Linked DNA regions of Homo sapiens. The protein of the gene in region 2 interacts with the protein of the main gene of each other region in a biochemical or structural test. Each region holds a gene or a part of one and is shown on either strand. Other genes may lie near its edges. The genes, in order: TNFSF8 and TNFRSF8.

The links.
Region 1: the proteins of TNFRSF8 (region 2) and TNFSF8 form a complex in vitro, tested with the Homo sapiens proteins (2 studies listed by BioGRID and IntAct).

What each region holds. Positions count from the first base shown.
Region 1 is NC_000009.12:114,919,477-114,929,277, forward strand, and holds part of TNFSF8 (tumor necrosis factor ligand superfamily member 8), read right to left. Parts: intron 1-9,801.
Region 2 is NC_000001.11:12,057,284-12,067,451, reverse strand, and holds the start of TNFRSF8 (tumor necrosis factor receptor superfamily member 8 isoform 1 precursor), read right to left. Parts: upstream 4,150-10,168; 5' UTR 3,854-4,149; coding exon 3,791-3,853; intron 1-3,790. UniProt on the Homo sapiens protein: Receptor for TNFSF8/CD30L. May play a role in the regulation of cellular growth and transformation of activated lymphoblasts. Regulates gene expression through activation of NF-kappa-B.

The DNA.
Region 1 (9,801 bases), on a different chromosome or scaffold from region 2:
TCAGACACTAAGTTTCACACCCTGATTGTCCCTCCCCTTTCTCTCCAGCCATGGAGACACCCATACAATATTCTGCCAATAAGGAATGAAGTATTTTATTCATCTTTTGACCTGCCCAGGTTGGAATCTCCTGTATTGCATTGAATTAAAATATTAGTAAAGACCTAGAGAGGTGTGAGCGTGTGTATGCGAAAAAACCAACTTCCTAACCTCTACCAAAGCAAGAAATTAGCAGCCGCCCACAGCTTATTTTCTTAGTGTTCTGTATGAACACTAGGACCATCTGGAGTTCCCCTATTATTGTAACATTTCCCTGGGAGGTCTGTCATTTGCCTTCCGCTGAAAGCTTGTTTTCTTATGAATGGATCTCTTCTCTAGTGCAAGAGGTTGGTAGTGAGTCAAGGAGGTCTCCTGAAGGCAAAGCCCTGGCACAGCACCAATCTGGAGATGGGGGAAGTCAGCTTAAACATTTGGGCCCTACCTTCTCAGGGGAAGGGAGGCAAACTTGTCCTGGAAGGCCCTTCCTACTGTAACAGTCTACGACTTTGTTGCCTTAGTTGAAAGCTTTTAACCTAACAAAGCTAAGTTTTTGTAGTCTTTCAGTTATGCATGCAGTTTGCAGGAAAACTTGATATCACAAAATTCCCCTTTATGTTGCCCTTGTGAGACAACACACAACATTTTAAAATTTAATAAACAACTTACAACTTACTGCCAAGCGTGACCATTGATTAGCATGATGTGCAAATGCACTAAGAAAAATATCTGCATTGAAATGTCTTACCACAATCATCAAATTCATCAAGCTGCCCAGGGACATATACAGGGACAGTGAGAGAGGCTAGAATAGCAAACCTGGTACAGCCATCATTGCAGAGGCTGCTAGCAGTTCGGGAAGTCCTAGAGAATCATTCATGCAGCACACCTTGAATGAGCACCTGGTCTGTGGTAGGAACTACGTTAGTCACTAAAAGACATCCTATGGATTTTATGCTTTAGTCATTAAGGCAGCCATTTAAAAAATATAAATAAATGTGTAATTAGAATTGCAGGTTGTGGCAAGAGCTATGGAGGAAAAGAATCATAGTGCTTTAAGGTAGTGCTGTTAGAACTTCAATGTGCATATGAATCACCTGGGAGTCTCGTTAAAATGCAAATTCTGATTCTGCAGATTTGGGGGGAGTTTAACATTCTGCATTTTTTTCTTTTTGAGATGGAGCCTCACTCTGTCACCCAGGCTGGAGTGCAGTGGCGCAATCTCGGCTCACTGTAGCCTCCATCTCCTGGATTCGAGCAATTCCTCTACCTCAGCCTCCCCAGTAGCTGGGACTACAGGGGCCCACCACCACCCCCGGCTAATTTTTGTATTTTTAGTAGAGACGGGATTTCGCCATGTTGACCAGGCTGGTCTTGAACTCCTGACCTCTTGTGATCTGCCCGCCTGGGCCTCCCAAAGTGCTGGGATTACAAGCGTGAGCCACCGCACCTGGCCAACATTCTGTATTTCTGGCAGCTTTCGAGTAATACTGACACTCCTGGCCCACAGAACACTTTGAATAGCACAGCTGTGAGAAGTAATATCAGAGAGGAGGACCTAATTTATATGGGGGTCAAGGAAAGCCTCTTTTCTCTCTGTCACTTGAATGCATTCTGGTTTCCTAATTTCAGACATGGGATGTCAAAAGCAGAGCATCTCAAACAGGAAAGAAACCTGTCATTTAAACCTTCACCCAGGGCCCAGGAAGTCCATGACAGAAGCGTGACTATTCCTATTTTGAAGAGCTCTTGGGATGAGGTCTTTACAGCTTCTCCTAGCTACCCATGGTAGTCAAGATTAGACAATCAAAGCCAGAGGGAGATTGAGACATCTTTCAGTCCATCAAGCTAATTTTATGGAGGAGGAAACCAAGGCACTCATGAGTCAGAGGCAGATCTTGGACTGAAATTCTCTGGTGTACTTTCCACTGCCCTAGGAGAGATGCTGTTTCCAGAAACAAAGGATAGAAGAGCTCATTCCTCCCTCCTCCCCTCTCCCATAAGCAGTCCCTGCATTTGGAGGTGGAGAAGCAATGTCTAAGGAGATGATGGCTGTTGAAATTCAGTGAAGACTGTTCATAAACAGGTATTACACTAAGTGTTGTTCACCAACTCCTCTTTGGCAAGATGTCCCCCAGTCCTAGAATTCTCTCCCTAATCTTGTCTGGGGATCTGGGTCCTAGCTCAGGAAATGTGAACTATCTTGCTCAATGACTTGGCTTTGTGTAAGGTAGTGCCTAGGCTGAATGCAGGCACAAACAAATGGACTCTCCCAGGTTTTCATTCTCAGCTCCACTGAGTAGCTCAGGAAACTTTGTCTCCGTGGTTATCAACGAGGTATACTTCCTTAAGTGTACTTCCTCTGTTTTTGGCCTCTGTAGATGTCTGATGAGTATTCCCAACAGTAATAAAGTTATTTTCATGTATGGAGGGAGGAATGGTCATGTTTAACCTGTTTGTCTCCAGGTAAAATGACCCCCATCCCAACCATCTTCCTTGCCTTGGAGTGTTTTCTTCTCCTTTAATCAGTGGTTAGATGGCTAATCATCCATCTTTCCACTGGGTTATTGTGGACATCATAAGATATTATAAAGTGTTAGCAAGTATTTGAAAAGCATAGCTATTTTGAGCACTGCCTTGGTGTTAATGATGTGCTTAATTTGCCTCAATACCTTGAAAGGCTTGTTTCTTTTCACAGAGGAATGATCAGCAGATGCAATGAGCTCCTGAATTTGCTTTGGACACAAAATGCCCCCGTGGACCAAAAATGATCAAAGGCAGCTCTGTTTGGAATATGCCAGGGGAAGTCCACATTCCTTTCCTTGTTGCCCTCACATAGTCTTGTAAGGTGGGCTCTGGCTCATGGCCCAAAGGGACTTTTGCCAAGGATACCTCTTATTTTCAAGCTAATTCATTGGGCACTTAATGAGGGTTACTCTACATGCACTATTTCATTTGGCCTTTAACTTGACCCCAAGAGTTACGGATTCATCAAGACTTAGAGAAGTGATTTCATAATGTGATAATGTTTATAGAAGGTCCCACAGGTGGCGAATAGCACAGAAGGGATTCAAACTTAGGTGTTTGACTTTGAAGGCACTGCTCTTCAATGTCCTGCTACATTGCCTCTCTAGATGAGGGCAGGATAAAGCTGAGCAGAAAAATCTCCTGAAATTTCATGGAAAAGTGAATAGAAGTCATAGAAAATCCTCAGGGGAAGACTATTTTTACTGGGAGCACATGGTCTGCCAAAGTGAGAAGTGGACCACAGTGGCTTAAAGCAGTGCTTCTCCCACTTTAAAAGACTGACCAGCATCGGGGGATTTTGGTAAAAGCAGATTCTGACTCAGTAGGGAGGGGCCCTTAGGTTTTGCATTTTTGATGAGCATCCAGGTGATGCCAATGTTGCCAGGCCATGGACCACACCTTGAGTAGCAAAGTCTTAAATACACTACTCAGTAGGCAATCAGAACACCTGAGGTCTTGAGAGATGGCTGTAGGAGGCTGAGTATAGATTTGGGCTCAGATATGGGCTTAGGAAATCTTTCTAGTTTGAAGATGGCAGTGATATCCTGTCCTCTCCGTCTCTTCTATCAAATCTTTTTATCATCTAGTTCCGTTTCTTCTCCTCTGTACAATCTGGACTGACTTCTGGCCCTACCATTCCTCTCCTCACACCTGGGCTTGCCTTCTTATGGGCTGTGCCACTGCTTTCTCTTTTGCCTCACCTGGAATATCCTGCTCCTCCTCCTCCTGCCACCATCTTTCCAATGGGGAGCTCTTCTCTACAGAAGAATGACAGCTAATAAATTTGGAAGGAGTGACAGACTTAGGCATTCCCTCTTTTTCAACCCTCAGTGCATTAGCTGATTCAGACAAGGATCATTAAGAAATGGCAAAACCACCAAGTGAAGAGTATTTATGTCTTCAGAGTATTATCCCATACATAGATTACTTTTCTTTCTTTTTCTTTCTTTCTTTCTTTCTTTCTTTCTTTCTTTCTTTCTTTCTTTTTTTTTTTTTGAGATGAAATCTCACTCTGTCACTCAGGCTGGAGTGCAGTGGTGCCATCTCTGTTCACTGCAACCTTGGCCTCCTGGGTTCAAGAGATTCTCCTGCCTCAGCCTCCCTAGTAGCTGGGACTACAGGTGTGTGCCACCACATCCGGCTAATTTTAGTATTTTTTGTAGAGACAGGATTTCGCCATGTTGGCCAGCCTGGTCTTGAAATCCTGGCCTCAAGTGATCCACACACCTTTGCCTCCCAAAGTGTTGGGATTACAGGCATGAGCCACTGCTCCTGGCCAGATTACTTGTTAATGAGAAAGAAAAAATGTTTTACAAAGGCGATAGTTGGTGGTCACCGCTTTAATCAAGTGACTAAACCTATAGTCAAAAAAAATGGGACAACCTGACATATGTCTCTAGCTGTGCTACAATAAGACGTATATAGAATTACCTATATACTATTCTTACTAAAAATGTTTCATCTGAGTATAACCATGAGTTAATACTAAGACAAATCCAGGCTATGAATGGATTTCTACAACAGAATTGGCCTGGACCCTTTAAAAAAAGGTCAATGTTATTTAAAACAAACACCAAAGGGCAAAGGAGATTTTAGCTCGGTGCTTCTCAAACTTTAATGTGCATACAGATCACCTGAGGAGCTTGTTAAAATGCAGATTCGGATTCAGGAGATCTGGGGTGAGCCCTGAGATTTTGAATTTCTAACAAGGCCCAGGACCACACTTTAAAAAGCAAAGTTCTAGATTAAAACAGATATTATCATAACACAGTATGTGACCCTAGATTGGTTCAAACAAACAAAAACACAACAGCCATACCTATAAGACATTTTTGAACAAGTAAAGAAATTAAAATATGGACCATATATTATTATTAGATGATATTATTGAATTAATATTAACTCTCTTGGCAATGATAATGGCATTGCAGTTAGTTAAGAGATGGGTACTGAAGTACATGTGAGTGAAAGGTCATGCTGCCTCCAGCTTACTTTCATATCCTTATATAGAGAGAGCAAAAATACAGCAAGATATTGACACAGCAATCTAGGTGCCAAGGTTATATTAGCATTTGCCATTCCACTTTTCTGTAGGTTTGAACATTTTCAAAATAAGACTTTGGGAATAAGCCATGACTGTTGTAATTCTTGGAAGCCTGGCTTTTGTTCTAGCTCTTCTACAAACTCCTCCTTCATCCCAAGCAGAAATGACTTCTCCTTTGCTCTGTGGCATTCTGTGCCATTCTGCCCGGAACCCAAGAACTTGGTGTTTGGGCTTCATCTGCTCAATTTAACAGAGTTCCCAGAAGACAGGGTCTTGCCCCTTCCACTGGGGACCTCCCCACATAACCTCACACAGGGCTCGCTCCTGGGAAGATTTACAGTGGATTTTTCTGGATTGCTAAATGGAATGAATGTCAGGTGGAGGGAGTACCTTGGGTAGTGGGAAGTGTCATGGGGCATTCCAAATAACTTCTTCTTGTGCCGAACTCCTATTAGCTCAACAGGGAAGGCACCATGTTCAAGAGGCTAAAGAAGAGGTGTAGAGTCAGCAAACAAGATGTGGGGTTTTATTGGGGGCTTACATACAGGGGAGAGAGTCCAGTGGCAGTGAGCTGAACAGGAAAACTGCTTTACGGACAGAAATGATCTCATGGCAGCAGGCTGGACAACATATTCACCTTATATACCGTCCAGTGGTGGTGGGTTGGGCAGGAAAACCACAACCACTTGCAAATAGCATGCAGTTTCTATAGCATGCTCACTTAACAGCCTCCCCTTAATGGCCTCCACCTGGCAGCCTTCATGTAACCAAAAACTCAGGCCTCAATCTCCTGTATGGCCCATGTTCCACGGGATGGGCTGGGGGCTCAGATGTTCCTCACAGACAAGGAATGAGTCTCCAGGTTGACCACTCCTGGACTCTCTAGCTTGGAACACCCATTCAGACGTGTCTGCCATATGTGGTTATTCTAAGGGTATGCTTCAGTTATTGCTATATCAGGTGTGTTTACCCTACACTTCTATTTTGTATCTGAGCTTAAAAATAAACCCAAAATACCACACCACCATCACCACCACCAATAATTACTCCCCTTAAACAGGTGCTCAGCTCCACTGTTGGTGTGGAGATAATTTAAAAAGAGTATTATTATTATTATTTTTAAAAAAAGAATTTTTTTTGCTTATAAAGGGAAAAGAGGCAGCTTCTTTCTTGAAAGCCTACCGATTGTGAACCCTATACTCCAACCTTTTGGAATGTAACCCTTTACATTCTCCCCTGGGGCTAGAGAAGCCCAGTCTCCTGGTTTACAAAACAAAGACGTCTCTAAGGTTGAGGGCTTCAGAGGCTTTTTGAAATGTAAACACCTACCTGTGGTGTTAACCTAGGAGTCTATCTCATTGTCTATCTCATTATGTATTCCCCTGTCTCTTGAGGAGATAAGAGAAGTTTTATTTTTTCTTCTTTTGCTTTGCTAGATTAATTGTGTGAAATTTCATCCTGACTTTGTAGTCTGTTGCAGGCTGCCTATTTGCATGTACAATTGTGCTTGCTCAACAGTAAATCATTTTTTTCTTTCCATATTGATGTAAAGAAGTGTCTGTTGGTAGGACTTTTAATTCCTCAGGGGTACACTAGTACAATCTCTTTGGAGACAGACTGACATTTATTGAAGCGAAAATGCACATTCCTCCTGGCTAACACGGTGAAACCCCGTCTCTACTAAAAATACAAAAAAATTAGCCAGGCGTGGTGGCGGGCACCTGTAGTTCCAGCTACTCGGGAGACTGAGGCAGGAGAATGGGGGGAATCCGGGAGGCGGAGCTTGCAGTGAGCAGAGATCGCGCCACTGCACTCCAGCCTGGGCGACAGAGCGAGACTGTCTCCAAAAAAAGAAAAAAAGAAAATGCACATTCCATTCCTATCACTAAAAATTTATTCCCCAGATATACTTGCAGACACGCACAGAGGGCACAAATTCTAGAGAAAACATTGATGTCTCTCACCAGGCACAGATAAATTATGAAGCATTTACACTTCGTACTATGCGACTCTTCAAAAGAATGAAATGAACTTCTATGTACTGACATGGAAGGATCTCTAAGATATACAGTGTGTTGTCAAGTGAATAAAGCAAGATGCAAAATTATGGGTTTATTATAATGACCCATGGGTTTATTATATATTATAATGTGTACTGTGTATTTGTAGATGCACAGATTTTTGGAAGGACACACAAGAATCTGTCAATGGTGGTTATCTCCGTGAAGAGGGATTAGTGGTTGGGTGGGGAAGGTGTGAAGATTTTTACTTTCTTTTCTCTTATTTGCTAGTTACTTTTCTTAAACCATGTAAGTATAGTATTTCCTAATATAAATATTATAAAATATATCAATATATTATAAAATATTAAATAACATAAAATATTATTTTATAATATAATATTTATAATATAAAATGTTTATTTTATAATATATTTATAACATAAAATGTTTATTTTATAATATATTTATAATATAAAATGTTTATTTTATAATATATTTATAATATAAAATGTTTATTTTATAATATAAAGTAATATTATTATATAAAATAGTATTTATTTTATAAATATGCTGGCTTAAATGTAAATAAAACAAAATACAACCACCACTGAGGCTTCAAAAATATCACAGGAAAGAAGTAAGTTCCATAGTAACTCAAAGACAGGGATTTTGTTGTTTTTTTTCAAGGCTTTAGAACAATGTCCTGCACACAGTAGATATTTAATAAATATTTGAGATAGAAACCTAAGTTCCTCCTTTGTCTCTCCCAAGGAGTTTAAGCTTGGAGTTATCTGATCTTCAAGTCAAACCTCAAGGCAAGCTTTGTTGATTTCCCTACACTTTCTCTGTCTTCTCTCCTCTGTCTCTTTGCTCATGCTGTTCCATTGGCTAGGAGTGCCTCTCCTCTGCTTTCCCTTCCCTGCCTGTTTGAAATTGTTCACATTTCTCAAGCCAACCTGAAACTAATCCCCAGGAGTTTTTCTTAAACCTGTCTGGAAAAATATATTCTCTCCTTAACTTGTGGTGTCATGGTATCCCTTTAATCACTCATTATATGTTATGACTTAGCTGTTTTAAATTTTGTCTATACACGTGCCTTGGGATAAGAATTGTGTGACTTCTTGTGCCAGTAAAACCATTCTTATGGTTCTCCACCCCTGTTCCCATCACATACAGAGTGCTAATTGACCATTAACTCATTCCATTTTTAATAATGGTGATGTGAGTCTAAGCTCCTTGGCTTTCTCCCATTGATTTCTTTCCTAGAGTTTCTTTTAGAGTCTCTTCACTTGTCTGAGTTCTTCCTGTTTTCAAGTCAGTCTACATTCCATCTTCCTATAGGAAACCCTTCCTGATAACTCAAGTTAATGGGAAAATGATGCTTTTTTTTTTCTTGTTAGGTCTTACAACAGTTAAGGTCTGAGGAATTTATTGAAAATGATATGTGCAATGCATTTGACACTTTATATACCACGGCTACTATTAACATGGCAAGCCTTAATTTTAAGGAAGCAACTGATATTTCCTGGTCTAAGAAATCACAGCACACCGCACTGTACAATCAGATTGCACAGTGAATCTTTTCATATCCAAACATGAGGGGTAAGTCAAGGAAGTGGATGCACAAGAAGATAAAGCTCCCAAGAGAAGAGTGGGTGCAATGTTTCTTAGTGCTTCTGTGGCTGTCTGTATTGGCAAAGGGGATGCTGCTTGCATCAAGCAATCAAGCAGTATTGGCTCTACCACTTTCTCAGGGTGACGTAGTTCAAGCCCTGTTCCCTCTCTGCTCCTCATTTTCCACATTTACAAAAATGAGGCAGAAAGATCTGCTCTGGTTCTTTTATAGAAGAAATCAATTCAACTAAAAGTTGGATATGAATGAGCTCTGAAGTTCTCTCTAGCTTTATATATCACCATCGCCACCCATTTTTCCACCATCTCTCTCTCTCTCTCAGCAGTTCTAGTTGGATCCTTTAACTAAAGAACTTCTTAAAGGACACTTCAATTTCTTTTCTTTGGCCATTGCTATAAAATGACATACCCTTGGTTCACTCCAAATTAGAATTACAGAAATTGCAGAGCCCCTGCAGAAGAAAAGATGTCCTAAAGTGTTTTCAAGATTATTATACTTAATAGATGTAGATAAGCCATTAAATTATGAGTTTTAAGAATTCCACTATCTAAATCAAATATTTGCAACTCCTTCTTTTCACTTTTGTAGAGATATGAGCTTCAAAGCTTCCATTTAATTTCAAAGCTTGATGACACTTGAGAAATAGATATCAAAGCCTTTTAAAGCCTAGTTCTTTCCAGCAATTGATAAGCTATAGAGTACTTGGCCTAAGAAAACTGAAGAAAAACCAGAATAAATTCAGCAGGATTATAATACCACGAAAAGTAGGCACTATGAAGTAAGAAACAGAAATATTCTCACTTTGGCAGGTCATGTGGGTGGGTGCAGCTCTTAAATTACCCATTAACAACTTCATCAAAAAATTCATGAGCAATATATGCTATTACTACAGCATTTTCTATATAATATATACTGGTAGATTCTCTGTAAACACCAATTTTCTAAAATATGAAGAAGCTTCCTCTTTCTCCTCCTCTTCTGTTTTCAGAAACAAATCTTACCATTTACTTCAAAGTAAATCTCCGAAGACAGTCTGACCCTGTACAGTGTGTACCCAA
Region 2 (10,168 bases):
CTCCCAAAGTGCTGGGATTACAGGTGTGAGCCACAGCGCCCGGCCCCAGCTAAGATACTTTCATGAGAACCTTCCTGGTCCCAGCCTGCACACTAACCCAGAGCAAAGATGCTTACATCTGGCTGGAATTGGGGGTACATGGATGTGGGAGGAAGGCTTGTTTAGCCTTAGCACTGGCAAGGAACATGATGTTGGGGAATTTCTAAGTCTACAGAGTTCACAGGAAAGCTGGGGCTTCCCCCGCCCCGCAACCCCACCACATGGTGCCTGGATGAAAAGGATGGAGCTATGGGGGAATAAATTTTTCTCTGCAGATATGCACCAGTTAATCCTGGGTCATATTACAAAAAAACACAATTGGACAAGACAGTGATACGAAGCATCAGAGGCCAACTCTCAGATGGTGCCAGCTAGCAAGAAAGCATTCCTGCCTCAGAATACCAGGCGAAAAATGATGGCGTCTTGGGAAAAATCAAATAGAGATGAAAAAAGAACTTCAGGATGGGCACGGTGGCTCACGCCTGTAATCCCAGCACTTTGGGATGCCGAGGTGGGAGGATCACTTGAGGCCAGGAGCTCGAGACCAGCCTGACCAACATGACGAAACCCCATCTCTACTAAAAATACAAAAATTAGCTGGGTGAGGTGGCAGGCACCTATAATCCCAGCTATTCAGGAGGCTGAGGCAGGAGAATCACTTGAACCCAGGAGGCAGAGGTTGCAGTGAGCTGAGATTGCGCCACTGCACTCCAGCCTGGGAGACAAAGTGAGACTGTCCCAAAAAATAAAAAAAAATTTAGGCCGGGGGCGGTGGCTCACGCCTGTAATCCCAGCACTTTGGGATGCCGAGGTGGATGGATCTCCTGAGGTCAGGAGTTCAAGACCAGCCTGGCCAACATTATGAAACCCCATCTCTACTAAAATACAAAAATTAGCCAGGCATGATGGCAAGTGCCTGTAATCCAAGCTACTAGGGAGGCTGAGACGGTAGAATCACTTGAACCTGGGAGAGGGTGGTTGCAGTGAGCCAAGATCGTGCCACTGCACTCCAGCCTGGGCAGCTGAGGGAGACTTCATCTCAAAAAAAAAAAAAAAAATTTTAAACTCAAGGAAATTCAAGCCCTAATTTGGGATTTTTTTTTTAAAATAACGAGCTTCCCGAACCTTTACTGGAAAAAACAGAAGTGGGAGAAGGCTTGAGGGGCAAAAAGGAGTACTGTGTTGGGCAGGTAGTCCCTTCCCCAAGGACTCCCTGACTCCTGCCAAGAAATGACCTAGTGCCTGAGCCCAGAGAGATGCTCAGCTTCCCCGGTAGGCGAGAAATGCAAATTAAGGCAACAAGGATATAACCCTTTTCACTAATCACATTGAGAAAAATTAAAATGCTGATAAGATCAAATGTCGGTTAGGATGTGGGAAAGTTACTACTCTCTTGCACTGCTAGCGGGAGGGTAAATTGTCCAGCCACCCTGGAAGGCAGTTCGGTGGTGTCTTTTAATTTGAATGCATTTTCGCCCTGCAACCTCAGTATTCTCTTCTCAGTCTCTTGTCTAGGAAAGAATCACAGACATTTATTTCCAAAAGCATCCATATAGGGCTGTGCACTGTAGTAGAGAACAAAGAAAGAAAGAAAGAACAATGGTGGCAACCTTAGCACCCATCCATCCAGGACATAAATAAACTATGAAACATCCCATTTGGCAAAAGATCACATAGCATTTTAAAAGATAGGCAGAGGATCTGTAAGTTTCAGCATGGAAAGCTCACCAAGATGCCTCATAGACATTATAAAGCCAAATGAAGAACCATATGTACTGTAGGGTATAGTATATGGAAAACTATATATATGTCTATTAAAACAATATAAATATGGACATGCATTTATAAAGGTCTGCAAAGGAAACACACCAAATCAATTATGGTGGTTATATCTTTGAAGGGATCAGGATGAGGCGGTGTCAAAAGACTTGGCTTTATCTGTAGCGTTTACAGTTTTGCTTTGAGAATATATTTATATATTCCTTGTGCAATTAAATATATAGTATTTTTATTTTAAAAAGGGTATGGGAGGCTGGGTGTGGTGGCTCATGCCTGTAACCCTAGCACTTTGGGAGGCCGAGACGGAAGGATCACTTGAGGTCAGGAGTTCGAGACCAGACTGACCAACATGGTGAAACCTCATCTTTACTAAAAATACAAAAATTAGCCGGGTGTGGTGGCACATGCCTGTAATCCCAGCTACCTGGGAGGCTGAGGCAGGAGAATCACTTGAATCCGGGAGGCAGAGGTTGCAGTGAGCCGAGATCGAGCATTGCACTCCAGCATGGGCAACAAGAGTGAGACTCAGTCTCAAAAAAAAAAAAAAAAAAAAAAGGTTTGGTATGAGAGTTCAGGCTGTAGTGAGTTATGATCGCACTCCAGCCTGGACAACAGAGTGAGACCCTGTCTCTAACATTAAAAAAAGTGGAGGGGGCTTCACTCTACAGAAAGGAAGCACATGAGCTTCAGCTGCCAAACCAAACCAGCAAAGCCCCCCAAGCACCTCTCACATCTCTTCCTTCCCTTCATCTCCCCAAGACCTTGGCACTCCAAACTCTTACCTTCCCCCAGGTGAGGGCTTGCAGAGCTGGGACAGGGTGTCTCTAGCCAGGGCTTTGTCCCCTCTGCCCTCTTGGGGGGAAAGGGGGAATACCTCACATTGCCCATTGGAAATGGAAGAGGGCATAGTTCCTCCTTTGCTGCATAGTTCCTCCCTCCTGCCTAAAGCCCACTCTGCCACTCTCCTCCCACTGCCTAAGGTTCAGATGACTAGAATTGATCCATAGCATGGAGTCCTCTCTTCCTGTAGGATTAAAGGGGAACTGGGTCTTCCCTCTCCCCCACCGTGACCCACCGCTGGACTAACAGCCTGCTCCTTCCTTTCCCTCTGTATCATTCAGCAGGCATCCACTCGCACCTACTATGGTTCTATGCAGGGGTCCACCGGGGTCCTGGGTCAGCTGAGGGCCTCTCTCTCCAGCAGCCCCTGGGCTCCGTGAAACACGCCTGGTTACTTTGCATTCTCCCCACAGTGATTAATTTGGCGCTGGCCACTGGTAAGTGCTCAGTTTTCCTAAAGCAGTCCCCAAACTCAATTCTGAGGCAACCCACCATAGACTTCAGCCCCACCACTGACCTTCTTCCAGGGGCAAATGCCCACCACGTGCTCCAGCGAATTCAATCCACAGCGTTGCTTTGCCGGACGCGGATTGGGGAAGCTAATCCCGGTGGTCCTGCACCCTCACCCCACTCTCACCCACAGCCAACTCTCCCTCCTTTCCTTGACCCTCCAGCCAGTGGCCAGCTTAGGAAGGGGGCAAACGGGACCGCGCACACAACAGGGTAGAGCGCGGACGACCAACCTCCCATGGCTAAGGGAGGCCCCATCTGGCCTGCCCACTACTCCCACGGCCTCACCTGATCTGCCCAGGACCCCGACGGGCCCGCAGGTAGGCGGGCTAAAGAGCGCCTCCCGCGTATGGCAGTGCTCTCAGTCCAATTCACACTGAATGAATGAATCAGTCCCAGCCATCGCGGGGTGAGAAGGAGGCGCCCCCCACCACTAGCCCTTCAGCCAGCCTCCCACCTGTGGGTGCTAGCATATTCCGGTGTTCCTGCTTGTCACCCGCGCCCCCTCACTCCAGCTGGGCAGGGAACGGGGTGAGGAGTGTCCTCCCTTGCGTCCCACGCACCCCACACTGTCCGGGCTCTGGACCGCCGGCACCTCCCCAGGCGCCCGTCACCCGCTTACCTGTGGGAAGGCTCGTAGCGCCCCCAGGAACAGCAGTCCCAGCGCGGCGAGGAGGACGCGCATCCCCGGGGCCGGACGTGAGGTGGCCTGGCGGCCGGCGCCCACCTGGGAAGCGGGGGAAGCGCGCGGCGCCCACGTGCGGTCCCGGCGGTTCTCAGCCGCGCGCGTGGACTTCAGGCTCCAGCACACTCCCGCCGCGGCCACCTAGTCCGCACCCAACGCACGCCGCGAAGTCACTTCAAAAGTGGTTGTTCCTCCGAGGTTTCAGCCTTAGTTCTCCCGTATCAAATTGGTTCCAGGAACACTTAGCTACAAGCAGCGAAGAAAAAAGGGGGCAAACACGTGCAGAGATGACTCAGGAAAAGGCACACTAGGAGACGCCTCCCTTAGCTGTTTGAATGGCCCGCCCCGGATTTGACGGAACTAGTGGTCCTGGCTCTAGGGAGTGTGCTGCCCGCCGCACCTGGGCTGCGGGGAGCGGAGGCAGGCAGCTTCTGGCCCTGGAGGTGGGGACTCACAGGATATTAGGAGGCCCCAAGGGGGTTCCAATGCCCCCACCTCCACTCCTGCCCCAAGAAACGGTGAAATGTGAGTAGTTTCCTGTCCCTGACACGATCAGCCAGGACCTTCTCCCATGCCCTTGAGATTCTTTGGAAGGGACAACTGGCCTAGGGAGACTGCAGAAAAAGCAACCATCACCCACCCATCCCCATTCATAAGCATTTGCTGTAAAATGAATCAGTGAGTGGATGATAAATTGGTGGATGGATGGATGGATGGATGGATGCATAGGTGGATGGATGGATGGATGGATGGATGGATGGATGGATGGATGGATGCATAAGTGGATGGATGGATGGATGGATGGATGGATGGATGGATGGATGGATGCATAGGTGGATGGATGGATGGATGGATGGATGGATGGATGGATGGATGGATGCATAAGTGGATGGATGGATGGATGGATGGATGGATGCATAAGTGGATGGATGGATGGATGGATGGATGGGTGAGCAGCAGGTGAGTGGGTAAATGGGTGGGTGGATGGGTGGATGGATGGATGCATAGATGGATGGATGGATGGATGCATAGGTGGATGGATGGATGGATGGATGGATGGATGGATGCATAAGTGGATGGATGGATGGATGGATGGATGGATGGATGGATGGATGGATGGATGCATAGGTGGATGGATGGATGGATGGATGGATGGATGGATGGATGGATGCATAAGTGGATGGATGGATGCATAAGTGGATGGATGGATGGATGGATGGATGGATGGATGGATGGATGGGTGAGCAGCAGGTGAGTGGGTAAATGGGTGGGTGGATGGGTGGATGGATGGATGCATAGATGGATGGATGGATGGATGCATAGGTGGATGGATGGATGGATGGATGAGCAGCAGGTGAGTGGGTAAATGGGTGGGTGGATTGGTAGATGGATGGACTGAATGTTGGAGGAACTGATGGATGGTATAGATCATTTTATTTCCCTGAGGCCTGACCCTTTAGAGTTTTCTTCCTGGAGGAGGCGGCTGGCACTCTCTCCTAACAGAAATGATTCAAGCCTCCTCGTACTATGTTCTCATTTGCTGGTGAATGATTTTCCCTTCCAGTGCTTCCCCATCCCCTGGGTTTTCTCTTTGCTCCTTTTATTCCACATTCCGTGTGTCTGTGTTGAGCATCTGCTGGGTGGGCCACAGGTCAAGGGTTCTTTTGACTGATTTTGTTTGGTTTTCAGATGTGAAAGCCAAGGCTCAGAAATAGGCAGGCAGTCCTAGGTGCTCTAATTAAGGGTGGGCCAGTTATTTTCCCTGAGCCCAGAATAGCCTAAGGATACTCTGGCTTCTGTGTCTACCTTGATCTGTCCTGCGAGGTACCAGGCCTCCATCAGGTGAAGGCCCTATAGGGTAGGAGTGATAACCTCCCACCAGGAACTTCCCAGCAAGGTCTCCACAACTGACCACTCCATGCTCAACCCTCCTGGGGCTGCTGGACTCCACTTGGGAAAACTGCTCCATCATGCCCCTTCCCAAGAGACCCACTTCCAGACTCTCCTCTGGATGTACCAGGCCCAGTATCTTAGGCTGTTTGAGCTGGGACTATGTTAAACAATGAGGTAAGCAATTATGGAAGTGACCTGCCTGTGATAATGACAGAACCAGACAGGGACAGGAGGAACGCAAGACACCTGCTTCCCAGTCCAGAGCTTTCTACTACAAAAGTAGAAAAGCTGGCAGCTGGGTGACATGGCTCATATCTGTAATCCCAACACTTTGGGAGGCCGAGGTTGGAGGATCACTTGAGCCCAGTTTGAGACCAGCCCGGGTAACGTAGCAAGACCTCATCTCTATTTTTTGTTTAATTAAAAAAGAGAGAGAGAGAAGGGCTGGTGTTTTGAATAAATAAATGAACAACAGCATCAAAATAGCTTGCACAAGGAGAAATACAAATAAAAATCAATTACAAGTTTTATAAGTTTAACCTTTTTAGTAATTAAAGAAATGCAAATTCAAGCAACCTTTGATAACCTTTTAGATCTATACAATCATCATTTTTTTTTTTTTGCTTTATAAAAACAATTTTGGTAAATCCAACCCCAAAGTTGTGGTGAGACCAGAATACTCATTCATACTCTGCTGGTAAATGTTACAACCCTTTTCAGAAAGCAGTATGGCAATTTTTAGCAAAAGCCAAAAAAAAAAAAAAATGTGTACTACTTGTGAGTGGCTCAGTAATTTCACCTCAGTGAAGAAAAACTAAGGAAATAATTTAACTGGAAAACTAGAAAAAGAAAAAAGAAAACTATACAGTAACATTTCCTTATATATTATTTATAAATTTTTGAAATACTCTGAGATTCACAACAAGAAATGATTACGGAAATTGTGGTACATCCATTTAATGGAATATTGCACATCCATTAAAAAGGATAAATCTATAGATGTTGTGGAAACTTGTCTCTCCCTCATATCCTTCCCTCCATGGATTTCCAAAGAGACCTTTCTAGCACACACATCTCACCAAGACACTCCCCTGTAGAGAACCCTTGCGGAAGTATGGTGTGTGTTTTGGCAGAGGACCACGTAGAAAATTATATTATTCATTTAATGATAACAATAACAGCTACCTTTGAGTGCTTATTTTGTGCTAAGAGTTTTCAGGCATTGGTTTCTTGTATCCTCATGAAAACCCCATGAACAAGGTCCTACTTTTATGCCCATTCTGCAGGAAAGGAACCCCTGCAGTGGCTCCCCTGGGTCAGAGTCACCCAAATGCAAGGGTGCACAAGTCTGCTCACAGCCTGGCAGGGGCTGACTCCTCCCTTGTGCCTTTTTACTTCTCCTGGACCTATACTCCAGCCAAATGTGCAGCCTTCTCACCCCTGCCAGCCTTTGCCCACGCTGGCCTCCACCTGGGACGCACACAGACTCCTGATCATCTTCCTAACCTGTTCCAATGCCACCTCCTCCTTGTTGCTTTCCTGGCAGTGTCTCCTGTCCCCCAGCCCTCTTCCCAGTCAAAAAGTGGTTTCTGTCATTTTTTGTGCCGCAATTCTAGATCTGATCTCATCATGTCATAACCATAATGACTGGTTCATGCATCCCTCTGCCCCAGGAAACTGTGTACTCCTGAGAACCAGAATTCCCCCAGGGCGCCCAGGAAAGTAGCTGACACATGGCTTAAGTGGAGGGAAGGCACATTTTGTGGCCAGGGAGCCAGCTGGATCCCAGGGGGAGATGGGCTGGTAGCAACCAAGGAAAACAGCCATTCATGGGACTCTTAAAAGCAGGCAGTGGATAGAGCCCCCGGGTGCCCTCGGCAGGTTTCAGGTGGTATGAAAGTGCTGTGAAGAGTAGAAGGGGAAGTCCCTAGGCTCTGTGCAAGGCACAGCAGCAGTCCTTGTTGTGGGGTCGTGGGGCCCTCCAGAGCAAGCTGTGGAAGGAAGCCAAGCCCGAGGGGCTACAGGAGACTGGGGAGCGAGGAGCGCTTGCTCACACAGTCTCAGCTCGGTGGGCTTCTTGGAGGAAAGGTGAGGAAGGTGAATGCAGTAGGAAGCCATCCAAGGGGAATTGGGAATCTGTGTCCCCAAAGTGATGCTGAGCAAGACACAAGGTCCCAACTTGGTTCAGGAAATTCAGGGACTTCCTCCAACAGCTGGGAACCCGAGTCCCAAATGGCCCCAAAATACCCTTAGCAGATAAAGGGTTCTTTCTGGCCCAGGCAGCAGCTGGCAGGTAGGAGGCTGGAAATCAGAGAGGGGAGGCTGGGGCCTTTCTTCTTCAATAGGTCCAGGTGCACCTTTTCTTTCTTTCTTTTTTTTTTTTTTTGAGATGGAGTCTCACTCTGTTGCCCAGGCTGGAGAGCAGTGGTGCAATCTCGGCTCACTACAACCTCCCCCTCCCCAGGTTCAAGCGATTCTCATGCTTAGCCTCCCGAGTAGCTGGGATTACAGGCGAGCATCACTGCACTCAGCTGATTTTTGTATTTTTAGTAGAGACAGGGTTTCACCATGTTGGCCAGACTGGTCTTGAACTCCTGACCTCAAGTGATCTGCATGCCTTGGTCTCCCAAAGTGCTGGGATTACAGGCAAGAGCCACCGCGCCCAGCCGCAGGTGCACCTTTTCTGAGCAACTTTCTTGGGAGCCTTGGTAGCAGTAGGACTCTCCATTAGGCTTCTCTGGGTCACCCTTGGCCTCCACCAGTCCTAATCGGCAGGACCCATGTCAGGCTCCCTCCAACTCACATCCCCAGATCTCCCTGCCCTTTTGAGGCACCAACATTAGGGGTTCTCAGCTGCCTGGGTGAACCCCAGCAATGCACACCCACAAGCATGACACCCCTAGACCAAGCCTGGTTGGAAACTAAGCAAAGGGGCACTGGCTCTCCAGAACTAGGTTTGTTGTGCCCCTTCCCATGGGCAGGAGGGAAGGCTGTGAGGCCCTCGGGGATGCTCTTAAAGATTCTGCATAGTAACATTAACAGTGTCATTCATTGAGCTCCTGCTGTGTACCAGGCCCTTGGTCAGACATTTAATCCTGGCATCAAGATTTCAAGTCAGTATTGCTATCCCCACTTTATAAATGAACTGAGGCTCAGAGTAGTTAAGTCACTTGCCTGAGGTCACACAGCATGAGGGTGGCAGGGCTAGGATTTACTCCAACCCTGTCTGACTCTGAAGCCTCAGCTGCCTTCTTTTCCCTCCCCAGGCCTCTCTCACCCTTGCTTTCCCCAGGAGAAAGAGCACTGATGTATAAGTCCTGGTCTGGCCATGTGACTTTGGGAAGTCATTTCTCCTCTCTGAATGTATTATTATCTATTGCTATGTGCCTCAGAACCTAGTGGCTGAAAACAATAAACATTATATTGCGCTGTTTCTGTGAGTCAGCAATTTGGGAGAGACTTGACAGGGTGATGCTGGCTCAGGGATTGCCATCAAGATGTGGGCCAGGGCGGCAGTCATCTGAAGGCTTGAGTGGGGCTGGAGCATCTGCTTCCAGGATTAGCCACTCCCACGGCTGTGGGTAGGAGGCTTCAGTCCCATGGGGCTGCTTGAGTGTCCCCACAACATGGCGCTGGCTTCCTCCAGAGCAAGTGACCCCAAGTGAGCAAGACAGAAGTCACAATGCTTTTTATGAACTAGCTTCAGAAGTCACATTTTGTCATTTCCACAGTATTCTGTTGGTTATACAGGCTGGCTCTCCCCAGTGTGGGAGCGGACTGCACAAGGGCATGAATACCAGGGGCTGGGGAACACTGGGAGCATCAGTTTCCCCTTCTGCCAGATGTGTGTTGAAGCATGACTGGGCTGCCCTCTGAAGGTTGTAATGGGCCTTGAATAAAATATGGACATAGAAAGCTCTTGGAAATGCAAGAAAGACATGGAAAGGGCTCTACTTCCCTTTGCCCCCTCCCACTGCCTATCCAGGCCCCTGCTATGGCCCCAGACCTCCCATTCCAGAGCACAGCTAAAATGCTCATGGCTGGGGGTTCCCCTTTCTGAGAAACATGCTACCATGACATCCACTGTTCCAGCCAAGGGGTGACTCATGCAGGGCAGGCCCACAGGAGGGAACCTTGGGGGTCTGAGGCCTTTCCTGGCCCCTCAGGTGATGTCAGGTGGGTGACCACTTCCTACACCTCCATGGCCCAGCCTGCTGGTCACACAGTCTCTGTGGGAACACTTCCCCCAACCTCTGGCACCAGATTTGGGCTCAGTCTTGGCTCCAGCTTGATAGGTGTGGAAAGACTAGATGGAAAGTCAGGAGCCCCAGTGTGGCCCAGGTTGGCATTTAGCTGCATGACTTTCTCTTGGGGGTCCTCAGTGCCCTCATCTGTAAAATGGGGGGGCTAGGGTCAATGATC